Homo sapiens: one gene and its partner. The protein of the gene in region 2 interacts with the protein of the main gene of each other region in a biochemical or structural test. Each region holds a gene or a part of one and is shown on either strand. Other genes may lie near its edges.

Evidence for each region. Proteins that work in one complex are often made in the same cells at the same time.
Region 1: the proteins of PAN3 (region 2) and TNRC6B form a complex in vitro, tested with the Homo sapiens proteins (one study listed by BioGRID and IntAct).

What each region holds. Positions count from the first base shown.
Region 1 is NC_000022.11:40,173,536-40,180,946, reverse strand, and holds the start of TNRC6B (trinucleotide repeat-containing gene 6B protein), read right to left. Parts: upstream 3,023-7,411; 5' UTR 2,812-3,022; coding exon 2,807-2,811; intron 1-2,806.
Region 2 is NC_000013.11:28,134,564-28,141,544, reverse strand, and holds the start of PAN3 (PAN2-PAN3 deadenylation complex subunit PAN3), read right to left. Parts: upstream 3,001-6,981; 5' UTR 2,888-3,000; coding exon 2,458-2,887; exon of another isoform or gene 2,371-2,457; intron 1-2,370. UniProt on the Homo sapiens protein: Regulatory subunit of the poly(A)-nuclease (PAN) deadenylation complex, one of two cytoplasmic mRNA deadenylases involved in general and miRNA-mediated mRNA turnover.

The DNA of each region.
Region 1 (7,411 bases), on a different chromosome or scaffold from region 2:
TGTGATATTATCACTAGTTGATCCAGCATTAGGAAATATAGATTGGTGGGGGGGGTGGCAGTTAATAGGGATTATATTCACTTTCTCCAATAAGAAACTTCCTCTGCATATGCCATCTCATTTTTAAAAAGTAAAACTACAACGTGCAAGTTCCAGCACCCCTGGATATTGCTCTTCATAACATCGGCCACATCTTTAAAGTTTTTAAAGCTTCAATTCACAGTACTCACAGAAAGAAAACTTCAACAGAAGGCACAAATTAAATACTATCCATCTGCACACTTAATTGATTACTCATTTTCATTTCCTTCTGGATGACCATCGTGTTGGTGAGCCAGAAGGATTGGCTCTGCAGGATCTGAGATCCAAAATGGCAGTCGAGCTATCAACTCACCAGAGCCATAATGCTTCCCATACGTGAAGCCAGGTCTTATTTATCTCACCTTTTAATTATCCAGGGGAAAAGAATATTTATAAAAAACATTTCAAAGAATCAAATGGCATTCATTGTATCATTCTCTGTTCTGCCTAAGACAGCAGGTACCCTGCTCTGGTTCCTCCTCTCTGCAAACTGAATTAACCTGCCATTCATATGTTTACACAGCCACAAAAACAAGATAATGGCAAAACATGGAAAGCCTAGGTTTTATCTCCTCTTCAGTAAGACCAACTTTAGGAAATAGGTGTAAAATGAATCATATAACAAGCAAAGCCCCAAAAAAGTGCTTTCATTTTCAGAAAAACAGCAACAAAAATCAGAGCTGATTTTCCTTTAGGTCTACCACAATGCAACATTCTCTATCACTAAGGTAATTTCTCTATCTTTTCCCTTTAAATTCAAGCCGTAAAAAAATTTAGAGACAACTTTGTTCCAGACTACCTCTTTAATGTAATGTTTCCAATCCTTCTTACACAAAAGCTGAATTTATATCATCAAAAAATTTACAGTGAATCTAAACAGTCACTTCTGTATTTATTACCATTACTAACATAACAACATTAATTTTTTAAAATAATAAAATCCTTGCTTGTTAGAGACAGAGGGCTTTAATTATCTTATGTATTCAAATGGAAAGTCTTTTTGTTAAATTAGCGTGAAAGTCCCTTCATCTACACACAATTGGCCCAAAGAAACAGGCCATTTTCAGCACAAGAGGCCAATCCATTTTAAGAGTGAATAAAGCTTTTGAAAGCACCACACACCCTCTTCCAGACTGTCAAATTTTCAAAATGGTCCAGCATTTTTTCCACTTTATCTTTTTTAACACTTTCAGGCCCAGTAAGCATCTCATAATTAGATTAATTAAAAAGGAAACAACAAAAAACACTGCTCCCTTCTGATCAAAATTATTCCATTTATGCTTAATTAGCTTTAATCCACGTCTACATATTTAATGATGGGGATATGACAATTCAACCCATTTGCATATTTTAAATGCCTTTTCTAAACTATACTTTGTAACAGATTTAGAAGAACAGTCTCTTTCTCATGCCAATATGCCACAGCATAAATCAGGAGGATACAAATTAGGAAAAAAAGAGAAAAGAAAACAAGGCCTCTCAGAGCCAGGGATGTGCTCAGGGGGGTGGAGTAATTTACCCAGGGGTGGGGGCAATTTACCCGCCACATCACAAACTACAATCCTTTCAGCCCACCAGACCGAGAAGCATTACATCACACTCTCACAATGATAGGGGGAGGAGGCTCTGAGAAAGCAAGTTTTCAGCTTTCTTTCCTCCCTGCTCTCAGGCTTCCAGAATCCTGCATTAGGAGTAATGGAATTTAACTTCAGGCACTGCACAGCTTCAGGGGTTACTAACAATCACATAGACTGCTACTTATACATGTGACCCTAAATGACCACTTCGCAGTGGATACATGGCCGAAACAGGCAACCACACACTCACACGATGAATTTATGCTGAAAAACTCAGTTTTGCATCTGTGTAAAATTAAACAAAAATTTTATTTCGTGAGGAATGAAGAAGGCTAATACACAGGGAGAACTGATAAAGAAATAATTTCTAATCGCGGTGAATAGCTGTTCATATCTTTAAAACACCATGTTTACAACATAGTCCTACCCTTTGGTTGAATCCAGGATCAAAATAAAAGCGCATCTGGCTGCACATTTGAGAACACACACAGAGACCCAGTGCAAATGAGCGCGCGCAGAAAGGAGAGGGGTGAGCCACATATTGCTTGGGAGGTTTTCAAGCAGGGGAATCTACAAACCCCAAACCTCCTGGTGTTCACCCGCCCCCAACCTGATGTTTAAAATGTATTAGGTCTTACTTTAGGTTTTACATCTCTCTAGGAAGGAGGGCCCAGTTTAAAAAATAAAAAGATAGAAAAAGGCTTTCCCGTTCTAGGGCTTGCCCTCCCAGATCCTTTGTCGGCCTTAGCAGCCGAAAGAATGCAAACCCATTTATATTTATGCAAATTTTTGCAGCAGATTTAAGGGGGGAGGGGGAGGTCTGTGTTTTTTAAAAACCTCTTTCTAAATAGCAAATTTCCAATTACTCGCAGCTTCATTTATTGCAAGATAGAAACGATGATGAAAATCTGCATATACATTAAAAGTGCAATTAAATCACTTCAAAATCTAAATATTTTACCACGTCTTTTCCATTTCTAAAATGCCGAACCAAAGTACATCACGGGTCTGATTTACACAGATCCACGAAATGTCTGAAGCCAGTCTCCATGCTAGACAAATGTCGATTTGCAACACCACCAGTGAAAACGGTTAGACAAGATCCATATAAATCAATTGGTTAAAAAAAATTGAAAATATTTACCAACCTCATAAAGTGCAGCAGTGCTTAAATCCAGCAAATTGAGGCATACAAGGTAGAAATGGAAATGAAAAAAGGTCCAAAAAATGAATTCTTTTTGTCTATCTGTTTTTTTGTATTTTAAATATTCAGAAACCAGCAGAGACTCTGTCGGCCATTTTGGCTTGAACTAACTCTCTCTCACACACTCTCCCTCTTGCTCTCTCTCTCCCTCTCTGTCTCTAAAGGAAGCAGCTTTTTGTGACCTTCAAATAGAGGCAGATCATGTGACTTCGGGTAGGTTTGTCAATCAGGAAAGGGGAGGGAGCTGGAGCTGAGACTGCCTTAAAGGGGAAGCAGCCCTTTTCCACTCACTTTCATTTGTGAAATGCTGTTATCTCATACTCTCCGCCTACAGACACTGCATGTGAAAGTGGCAACAGCATAAGGGTAACAGATGAACAAAACAGAAAAACCTTTATTGGTTTATAGAAATATGCTCAGTTGCTAACGATTCTTACAGCTCCTGGATCTTCTCCTGGCTCGCTTGCTAGTTATTCTCTAGATGTTTGGGCAAGCACAGGCTGGCAAACTGCTCTGTAAAAGGGGCTGAAACACAGCTCTACCAAACAAGAGGCTTTAGCTTTGAAAGAATGAGGTGAAATACAGGGCACGACTGATCTCTAAGAAACTCCTAAAATGTATAGAAAAAGACTGAAAGAAACGCACAAAAGTATAAACTGAACTGCAATTCAGAAAGGTTAAGTGACTTATCCCAAATCACACAGCTGAACAGCTGCAGAAGAGGGACTGGTTTCCCAATTCTGAACTCTACACTTATTGTTTTGCCTGTATGTGTGTTCAGTACCTCCTCCCCCAAACCCAAATAAAAACTATGCTTCAGCACTGCAAACGGAGTTTCTCTGGGCTAGGGCAGGTCTGAGTCATCTTTAATCCCCTCCCCCACCGCAGGAGGTAGCTCTGCAGCTGAGGGAGCCTAGGCACTAAATTAAAACCTACCTGGTTTCCACCACTCCTAATCCCTTCTCCTTCGCATATACATCTCCACTCCTACCCACTTAAGAAACCCAAGCTCGGTTTGCATCTCCAGCCCCCGCGGCTCACAGGCCGTGTAACTTCACTGCTAACAGCAAGTAAGTAAGTCCCTTACCCATCCTCCCACCCTGCCTGGCCTCCGTTTTCTCATTGGTAGCCGGCGGAGATTGGGCTTCCCTAGATGGTATCTTTGGTTTCTTTCACCTCTGAAACTCTGCACTTGGCTTCTTTGAGTAGTTCTGTTCATCTTTTCCTGGCCATCTCAAAAGTTCGCCTCCACCCTGGGAAGGCTTCTTGACCCTCGCAGTCCAGACCAGGCCCTCCTGTTAACACTCCCATAATATCCTTTACTACTTCTTCAGAGCAATGGTCATAATTGCAATTTATGAAAGAATGTGCTTAACATTAGTCTTCCCCAGGAGACTGTAAACTGTATAAGGAAAAACACCACGTCTTCACTGCTCTGTGAGGCTCCACACCAAACACCACATAGGAGGTAAATAAATGAATAAATCAATGACTTGGACCCTATTCAGAAGGGCTGGGCTGAGTAGGAGGAAATCTGCCACCTGAATATAAAAAATGTAGGGGAATGAGGGTCACATAGTTCCCAGAAACTCGCATTCATCTATGTTTTAAGGACGGCTTCAGGAAAGAAAGTAACTAAAATGGTAAAAAGCGCATGAGGCCGGGTGCGGTGGCTCATACCTGTAATCCCAGCACTTTGGGAGGCCGAGGCAGGCAGATCACCTGAGGTCGGGAGTTCGAGACCAGCCTGACCAGCATGGAGAAACCCCGTCTCTACTAAAAATACAAAATTAGCCAGCGTGGTGGCACATGCCTGTAATCCCAGCTACTAGGGAGGCTGAGCTTAGCAGGAGAATCGCTTGAACCCGGGAGGCGGAGGTTGTGGTGAGCCGAGATCGCGCCATTGCACTCCAGACTGGGCAGCAAGAGTGAAACTCCATCTCAAAAAAAAAAAAAAAAAAAGTGCATGAGAATGCCCTGTGACTATCGACTCCACCTATCTCTATAAGCCAGAAAAGGGAGGATTCCCTAGTGTGCTTCTCCCATAAACTAGGCTGCCATGCCAGCCAGCAGACAACTGATGGATTCTAGAAACCCGGCTTTCCTTGAAAAGGAACCTACGAATGCTTGTAAAATCCCACAACACTTGTTGTCATCCTGGCTTCTGGGTCTTTATACAGTCTCCCGCCTTTGCTCTTTCCACTCAGATATGACGACAGGAAAGGAGCTGTTTCATGGCAGGCAAAGGCCAATGCCTGGACAATCTGGTAGCCTGAATAGCTGTGGCTTAACAAGCTTCCACTGTCTTTGCCTAGCACTGAGTGAAATAGCCAGGCCCTGCACTGACAATTGAGATGCAGGAAAAAGCAGGAAACTACTAGAATGGAAATTCTGATTATTTAGTCTATTTTTATCCTTCCAATACCTTCCAGATGAGTTACTGAAAGCCTACTTGCTTGTAGCTGGCTCGATTTGTAAAAATGTGTGGAGACTGAACATCCACCTTGTTTTAATTTGTGATGGACATGCTTTCTTTATGAAACTGAACTTTGCTAAGTCTCCATTCCCCAGTGTAGAATATTATTGTATACAAATATTTATATGTGTTGCCTTGTAAGTGTTAAATAGCAAACTGCATGAAAAGTTTGGAAACAGAACAAACATATTTTAAATAAAATATTGGTTCTAATTTCAAATAATATGCTGAAAACATATATATATATATTTTGAGACAGAGTCTTGCTCTGTCACCCAGGCTGGAGTGCAGTGGCATGGTATCGGCTCACAGGAACCTCCACCTCCTGGGTTCAAGCGATTCTCCTGTCTCAGCCTCCTGAGTAGCTGGGATTACAGACACATGCCACCATGCCCAGATAATTTTTGTATTTTTAATAGAGACAGGGTTTCACCATGTTGGCCAGGCTGGTCTCGAACTCCTGACCTCGTGATCTGCCCACGTCAGCCTCCCAAAGTGCTGAGATTACAGGCATGAGGCACTGCGCCCGGCCACTGAATATTTTTTCCTTAACCTCCACATCATCTTTTCTATGCAATACCTCTAAATTTAATACAATTAGTCTAATCGTTTATCTAAAACAAACAAGTGCAATAAATACATTATTTCTCCCTTGTGTTTCCAGACATAATAGATTCTGTGATAGATTTATTATACTTTTTTCATATTAACAATTAGACAATATTTTAAAATTATATTATTGTAAGGTAAGGACACAAAGAAATAAATTTTTTTTTTTTTTTTTGAGATGGAGTCTCGCTTTGTCGCCCAGGCTAGAGTGCAGTGGTGCTATCTCGGCTTACTGCAAGCTCCGCCTCCCGGGTTCACGCCATTCTCCTGCCTCAGCCTCCCGAATAGCTGGGACTATAGGTGCCTGCCACCACGCTCGGCTAATTTTTTTGTATTTGTAGTAGAGACGGGGTTTCACTAAATCACCTCGTGATCACCTCGTGATCTGCCGGCCTCAGCCATAAAAATTATTTTCTAAAACTAAAAACAAGAACATTCAAATGACTGTTATCTTTCAAAGCTGGCACCTTTGGAGGTTACATACCATTCCTCAAAATATTTTTATCAGAAAACATGATTGGCCAGGCATGGTGGCTTATACCTGTAATCCCAGCACTTTGGGACGCCGAGGTGGGTGGATCACTTGAGGCCAGGAGTTCGAGACCAGCTTGGCCAACATGGCAAAATCCCGTTTCTACTAAAAATAACAAAAATTAGCTGGGCATGGTGGCACACGCCTGTAGTCCCAACTACTCAGCAGGCTGAGGCTCAAGAATCACTTGAAGCCAGAAGGTGGAGGCTGCAGGTTGCAGTGAGCTGCAGTGAGCAAGGTCGTGCCACTACCCTCCAGCTGGGGCAATAGAGCAAAACTCTGTCTCTAAAAAAAAAAAGAAAAAGAAAAAGAAGAAAACAAGATTGAAAAATAACTGAACTGAGTATTTAACTCAAAAATCTAGAAAAAGGCTGGGCGTGGTGGCTCACGCCTGTAATCACAGCACTCTGGGAGACTGAGCCAGGCAGATCACCTGAGGTCAGGAGTTCAAGACCAGCCTGGCCAACATGGTGAAAACCCAACTCAAAATACAAAATTTAGCTGGGCATGGTGGTACCTGCTGGTAATCCCAGCTACTTGGGAGGCTAAGGCAGGACAATTACTTGAACCTGGGAGATGGTGGTTGCAGTGAGCTAAGATCATGCCACTGCACCCCAGCCTGGACAACAGAATGAGATTCTGTCTCAAAAAAAAAAAAAAAAAAAAAAAAAAAATATATATATATATATATATGTTCAAAAATCTAGAAAAAGAGTTAATAAACCCCAAAAATGAATAAATATAAAAGCAAGGCTGGCCATGGTGTTGACTCATGCCTGTAATCCCAGCACTTTGGGAGGCCAAAGTTAGAGGTTTACTTGAGCCCAAGAGTTTGAGACTGGGCAACAAACATAGTGAGATCTCGCCTCTACAAAAAAATAAAAAAAGTCAGCCAGGCTTGGTGGGGTATGCCTGTGGTCCTAGCTACTCCG
Region 2 (6,981 bases):
GGTGAGCCGAGATCACTAGATTGCACTCCAGCCTCGTAAACAAGAGTGAAACTCCGTCTCAAAAAAAAAAAAAAAAAAAAAAGAAAAAAAGAAAAAGAAAATCCTAGAATGATCGTCAGAGCTGTCTGTCAGGAATAAGATTAATAGATAAATAAAACTTTAAAAGTTTTTTTTAAAAAGAGAATCCTAGAAAGATCACCTATGAAGTCTAACACCAGCATTTTAAAAAGTGCCTCTTTCTGGCCAGCACAGTGGCTCACACCTGTAATCCCAGCACTTTGGGAGGCCGAGGCGGGACGATCACCTGAGGTCAGGAGTTCGAGACCCACCTGGCCAACATGGCGAAACCCCGTCTCTACTAAAAATACAAAAATAAGCCGGTCGTGGTGGCGCATGCCTGTAAAACCCAGCTACTTGGGAGGCTGAGGCAGGAGAATTGCTTGAACCTGGGAGGTGGAGGTTGCTGTGAGCCGAGATCGCACCACTGCACTTCAGCCTGGACGACAAGCAAGCCTCCGTCTCAAAAAAAAAAAAAAAAAAAGTGTCTCTTTCTGTCAGTAAGAAAACTATTGTTCAGTGTCATTGGTTACTAATCAAACATTACTACTGAGTCACGACTCACACATCCAGCAAAACTTTAACCTGAAAATGCAAAGTTGATGCTCGAAAGTGATAAAATTCCACCCATAAGTAACCATTTGTTTTACAAAACATCTGAATTTACAAAATTAATTTTCTTAGCATTATCAGCCTTAGCAAATATATCTTCATTAAAGTCAAGCCCATCACAACAAATGAAACACTTCTATAAAAGAAAAAGAAAGAAGAGAGAAAGGAGAAAAGAACAGAACAGAACAACACTTGGCCCAGCATGGTGCCTCACTCCTGTAATCCCAGCACTTTGGGAGGCCCAGGCAGGAAGATCGCTTGAGCCCAGGAGTTCCAGGCCAGCTTGGGCAACATAGGAAGATCCCGTCTCGAAAGAAAAAGCAAGAAAGCAAAACCCCGGGGAAGATATTAAATAATCCTCATAGACCAATTAAATGCTAAAACTTCCTATCAGGTTCATTAACAGTGTTTAAGAAAAAGACAAAATGTTCTCATGTACAAATTGAACTGCCTATCAGATTATTTTAAGATCTAGTTCTCCAGAATTCCCAAGAAAGTAGGACTCCTATTTGGTTTAGAAACGCTCAATATACTAAGAAACAAAACAGGGACATCTGGCACCGGCTCTATTCGTAAAGGCAACATTCTCTAACAGATTACGCTCACATTCAATTGTAAACTCCACTAACAACTAACAAGCTTCAGGTCAATAGATAACAACACACTGAGAGGCTGAGGAGGACAGATCACTTGAGGCCAGCAGTTTGAGACCAGCCTGGCCAACACAACGAGACTACTATCTCAACTAAAACTACAAAAAATTATCTGGCCGTGGTGGCGCGCGCCTGTAGTCCCAGCTACTCCGTAGGCAGAGGCAACAGAATCGCTTGAACTCGGGAGGCGGAGGTTGCAGTGAGCTGAGATCGCGCAACTGCACTCCAGCCTGAGCGACAGGGCGAGACTCTCTCCAAAACAACAACAACAACAACAACAACAACACATGAAAAAGAAATATAAACAGCCTTAAGATGTCCCCACCCAAGTGCTCAGTCGCACATAAACGCAGGCTGCACATGACATGCATTCAAGACACAATGCTGAGTTTGCTTGATACAAAGCTATAGAAGACAGGATCCCAGCTGACACCAGCAAACTTATTCTAGCTTTCAGGGAAACTCAGATGAAATGCGTCTTTGTGAAATCCCTACTCTAAACTCTCGATTAAACCTGAGCACACTTTGAACGCGACAGTCCGCTCCCTCCTAATCCTTAGAAAGCATTTCCTGCCTGCAAAACCTTTCTCCCGCAAGCCTTCTACAAACTTTTTCCGTTCTTTCAACCTACTCCACGAAGCCTTAAGCCCGCCCCTCACCTCCCGCCCCCTACACACACACACACACACACACACACACACACACACAAACACACCCCTCCCCACTAGGGAACCTCAACACTCTGCAGACGCCACTCCACAAGGACACGCAAAACACATGTGCCTGCAAACCCAGCCCCTTTCCACACCCCCCGGAAACGACACCCCCTTTCTCACACTCCGCACGCCACAGCCCATCCCCCTTCCTCCCCGCCCCCCCTTCACATCACCCCAGTCCTCCCACCCACGTTCCCGGGAACCCAACCTCCCCGCGCTCTCCGACTTGCCGAAGGCAGTGGGGAGGGGAAGCAGGAAGAAGGAAGGAGGGCTCAGGCCCGGCCTAGGCCTCTCAGACCGCCTTGGGAGGTGAGGGGGGGAGCCCGCGGGCCGTGCTCAGCTCCCGTCGGCAGCAGGGCCTCATCCGGCCCAGGCCTGCCCTCCGCCGCCGCGGCCCGCCCCGCCCGAAAAACACTCACTTGCCAGCCGCGGTCCATCGAGTCCCCCGCTACTGCCTCCTCCGCCGGCTGCGGCTCCGGTCCCCGGGTCCCCCAGGTCCGGCTTCTTGGGCCCGGGGGGCGGCCCAGCTCCCCCGCCCGCGACGGCTCCCGGCGGAAAGCCGGCCACGGGTGCACCAGCCAGAGCCAGGGGGACGCTGTTGCTATGGAGGCCGAGGCCCGGGGCAGCCCCGGCGGCAGGGTCCTCATGCAGGAACTGACACTCCTCCCCGTAGAAGCAAGTCTTATCCTTAGCGTAGTAGCGGCAGTACTTCAGCTTCACTCCTACCGCCGCCCCGCCGGGGACACCCCCGACCCCCGGCGGGGCCACCACCGCCACCGCCGCCGCCAGCGAGGAGGAGGAAGGGGAGGCGGCGGCCGAGGGGGGCGGGAGGCCGCCGCCACTGTTCATGGCAACGCCGCAGCCTCGTCTTCCGCCGCCGCCCGAGGAGCCGCCGCCGCCACCACCATAGACGGGGGAGGAAAGGAAGACGCTGCCGGTGCCGGATAAAAGCCTGGGCGGGTGGGTCTGTCCCGCTGCGGGAGCCGGAGCCGCCCGGGGAGAAGGGGGAGGGGAGAGGGGAGGGAGGAGGGGGTAGAAGGAGGGAGGGTAGGGGGAGAGTTGGGATTCTCTCACTCACTCTCTCGTTCTCTTTTCTTAAAGGGGCCGCGCGGGACGACGGGGTGAGCGCGCGGGCCCAGACGGGGACTTCGAGGGCGCGGGCAGGGGAAGAGGGAGCGGCAGCGGCAAGCGGGTGGGGAAGGCGGAGGGGCCGGTTTATTTTTAAATTCTGCCTCCACTCGCTCTCTCGCGCTCTGGTTCCTCCGAGTTGTTTATTCCATTTTCCTCTTCCTGAGACGGCCGTCGCCGCTGCGCGTGCGCGCTGAGACGCGAGGGCTTATGGGTAGCGGGAGCGCTAGGGGAAGCCTGGCCGGCGTCGGGCCCCCGGGGGCATCCGCGAGCTATCGGCGGTTGGACCGGCGGCTCTCGGTGGGGTTCCGGACGCGGATCTGGCGCCGAATTCTCACGAGACCTGATACCTTCCTTATTTGTATATTCTCTTACTTAAAAAGCCAGATGTCTTTTTTTTTTTTTTCATTGAAAAGAGAAAATTGACAAGGTAAACGGTCGTTTGGAGGGGCCACCTGGGGACGCGGCCCGAGCCCTGGCTCTACCTGAAGAATATCTTCTATTTGCCACACTTCCTCTCCCCGTTTCCTTTCTTCGCCCCTCTCCTCTTTCCCCTTCCCCTCGAAGGTAATGAGAACTACTGGACCGATTACGCTAACCTCTTGGCCCTTTGTCAAAAAATGGAGCCAAAAAGGTTGATTTAGACAGACCCCCTGCTCAGTGCAGCACCTGTTATTCTCTGTATTTATATTACCAAGGGCCTTCGGTAAATTATGAAAAATAGGATGCCACCTGGGACAACACTGCTTAGACAGCACTGGAAGACCTTTATAAATATACTAGGTTGCTTTTCTCCAATCAGCCTAGCCTTGATTTGAAATTCATTTTTATTTTTTTTGAGACGGTGAAATTCATTTTTAAAAGATAGTTTTAACCTCAGCGATCTCTGATGTTTGCGCTAATACCCTTTTAAAGGCTTTCAGAAATTTTAAAGAATTGCTATGAAAGGAAAAGTAACATTCTAGTTTTTCTCTGTAAAAGAGGTTCACAAACGGCAGATCGCTGTTATGAAAAGGAGGGGTGGAAGTATTTAAGGAATTGTGGCAAACAAAGTCACAGAAGAATGGATATAAGCAAAAGTAGCACACTGAAAAAAATGGGGAAAAGTGGAGTCTAGATCACAAACTGGTAAGCTTGGTGATGTTCTCTAGCCAAATTCGAAGGTAATAACATTGTATTATGGCTTTCTGTTTAAAAGCAGTTTCGCTTATTTGATTATTCAACAAATCTTTATTAACACGCATTACGTGTACCAGAAACTGTGGTACACTTAACTGTGGAGCTGGGGAAGCAAAAGTGAACATGCCGCCTTAAGTGAGTTCAGATGGCTTATCTTCCGGTTGGGGAGGCATCAAGTACACAGGTCCGTTGTAAACCAGTGTCTTAAGTGCTAACCTTATCACATTTGCTATTAGAGGATATTAAACATGTCAGACTTCTTGGAGAAAGTTGATATTTTCATGTTCCAAGTTTGGGAACATCATTGAATTCAGACAGATCTGGATTGAAACAGATTAAAGTGCCTACACTTTAATAGCTGTGTTCCTCTCAGTTAATTGCTTCATTTCTCTGTGCCTTGTCTGTACACCTGGATTAAGAATAGTACCTACTTCATAAAGTATAACTAATAATGTATATAAACTGTCCCATGCCTAATAAGAATTCGGTAGGTTGTAACTATTATTAATAGTATTGGCCAGGCGCAGTGGCTCACGCCTGTAATCCCAGCACTTTGGGAGGCCAAGGCGGGTGGATCACCTGAGATCAGGAGTTCGAGACCAGTCTGGCCAACCTGGTAAAACACCGTCTCTACAAAAATACAAAAAAATTACTGGGCGTGGTGGCGAGCGCCTGTGATCCCAGCTACTGGGGAGGCTGAGACATAAGAATCACTTGAACCTGGGAAGCAGAGGTTGCAGTGAGCCGAGATCTCGTCATTGCACGCCAGCCTGGGCGACAGAGCGAGACTCCATCTCGAAAAAAAAGTAGTATTGCTGCTAGTGGTAGTCAGTGTATAGTCAAAGAGCATTCTAGGCAAACAGCTTTTATTGTTAGAATACAGTGATAGTGGAAAATGGAGCAGAGTCCACAAAAGTCCTTGTAGGGCCATGTTAAAGAATTGAACTTTTGGCCAGGCGCAGTGGCTCACGCCTGTAATCCCAGCACTTTGGGAGGCTGAGGCGAGCAGATCACGAGGTCAGGAGTTCAAGACCAGCCTGGCCAACATGGTGAAACCCCCGTCTCTGCTAAAAATACAAAAATTAGCTGGGTGTGGTAGCAGGCACCTGTAATCTCACCTACTCGGGAGGCTGAGACAGAAGAATTGCTTGAACCCGGGAGGCAGAGGTTGCAGTGAGATCGCACCACTGCACTCTAGCCTGGGCGACAGAGCAAGGCTCCATCTCAAAAAAAAAAAAAAGAATTGAACTTTTTCTTGAGGACAATTGGAAGTTATTACAGGGTTTTTAAAAGTCAACATGGCAGGGCACAGTGGCTCACACCTCTAACCTCACTGCTTTGGAAGGAAGCCAAGGCAAGAGGATCACTTGAGGCCGGGAGTTCAAGACCCTCTTGGGAAAACTAGCAAGACCCTGTCTATACAAAACAATTTAAAAATTAGCCAGGTGTAGAGGCACTTGCCTATAGTCCTAGCTACTGGGGAGGCTGAGGCAGAGGATCATTTGGGCTCAGGAGTTCCAGGATGCAGTGAGCTTTGAAGGCGCCATTTTATGCCAACCTGCACAGCAGTGAGACCCTCTCGGTCAATAAATAAAAAATAAACTTATTTGCCACACATTTCATATCTCCACACTTTTTTAGGAGACAACTACTTATTCCTATAGTAGGGTTGTCTTTTTAAGCAGGGTTCATTGTTGAGTATTCCTTTACTAAAAATAAATATGTAGTCAACTCTAAGTTATTTTCATGTTAATGAAGATTACATCCAAAACTGCAAATAATCCATAAATTATTCATAAAATGTATACTTGACCTCCAACAGCATTTCCCCAGCAACAGAGACTACATTGCTAAAGGGTAATGTTAATTTCTATTAAATGCTAATAATTGAGGCCAAGCGCATTGGCTCACACCTGTAATCCTAGCACTTTGGGAGGCGGAAGTGGGTGGATCACTTGAGGTAAGGAGTTTGAGACCAGCCTGACCAACGTGGTGAAACCCCGTCTCTACCAAAAATACAGAAAATTAGCTAGGCATGGTGGCAGGCACCTGTAATCCCAGCTTCTCGGGAGGCTGAGGCAGGAGAATTGCTTGAACCTGGGAGGCGGAGGTTACAGTGAGCCGAGATTGCGCCATTGCATTCCAGCCTGGGCAACAGAGCGAGACTTCATCTCAAAATTAATAATAATAAAGATTGAGAGGAAAACGTCACATTTTCTGAATGGTTAATTATTATATTAGTGATAGCAGCCTGAGTCTTAAAAATTCTCCCTTAAGGACAAGCATGTGGCTCACACTTATAATCCTAACACTTTAGGAGGTCAAGGCAGGAGAATCACTTGGCTCAGAAGTTCTGAGACCAGCCTAGGCAACATAGGGAAACACTGTCTCTACAAAAAAATTTAGCTGGGCATGGTGGCATTCTGTGGTCACAGCTACTTGGGAGGCTTAGGTGGGAGGATTGCTTGGGCCAGGAGGTCGAGGCTGCAGTGACAGCCTAGGTGACAGCAACCCTGGTGTCACCTGGTGAAAAAAAGGTGACCCTGTCTCAAAAAAAAATAAAAATTATCCCTTAAGATAGAGTGGAAACTGCATGTGGATAAATGAGAGTTGACTGTTTTTGAGTCCTAGAAATG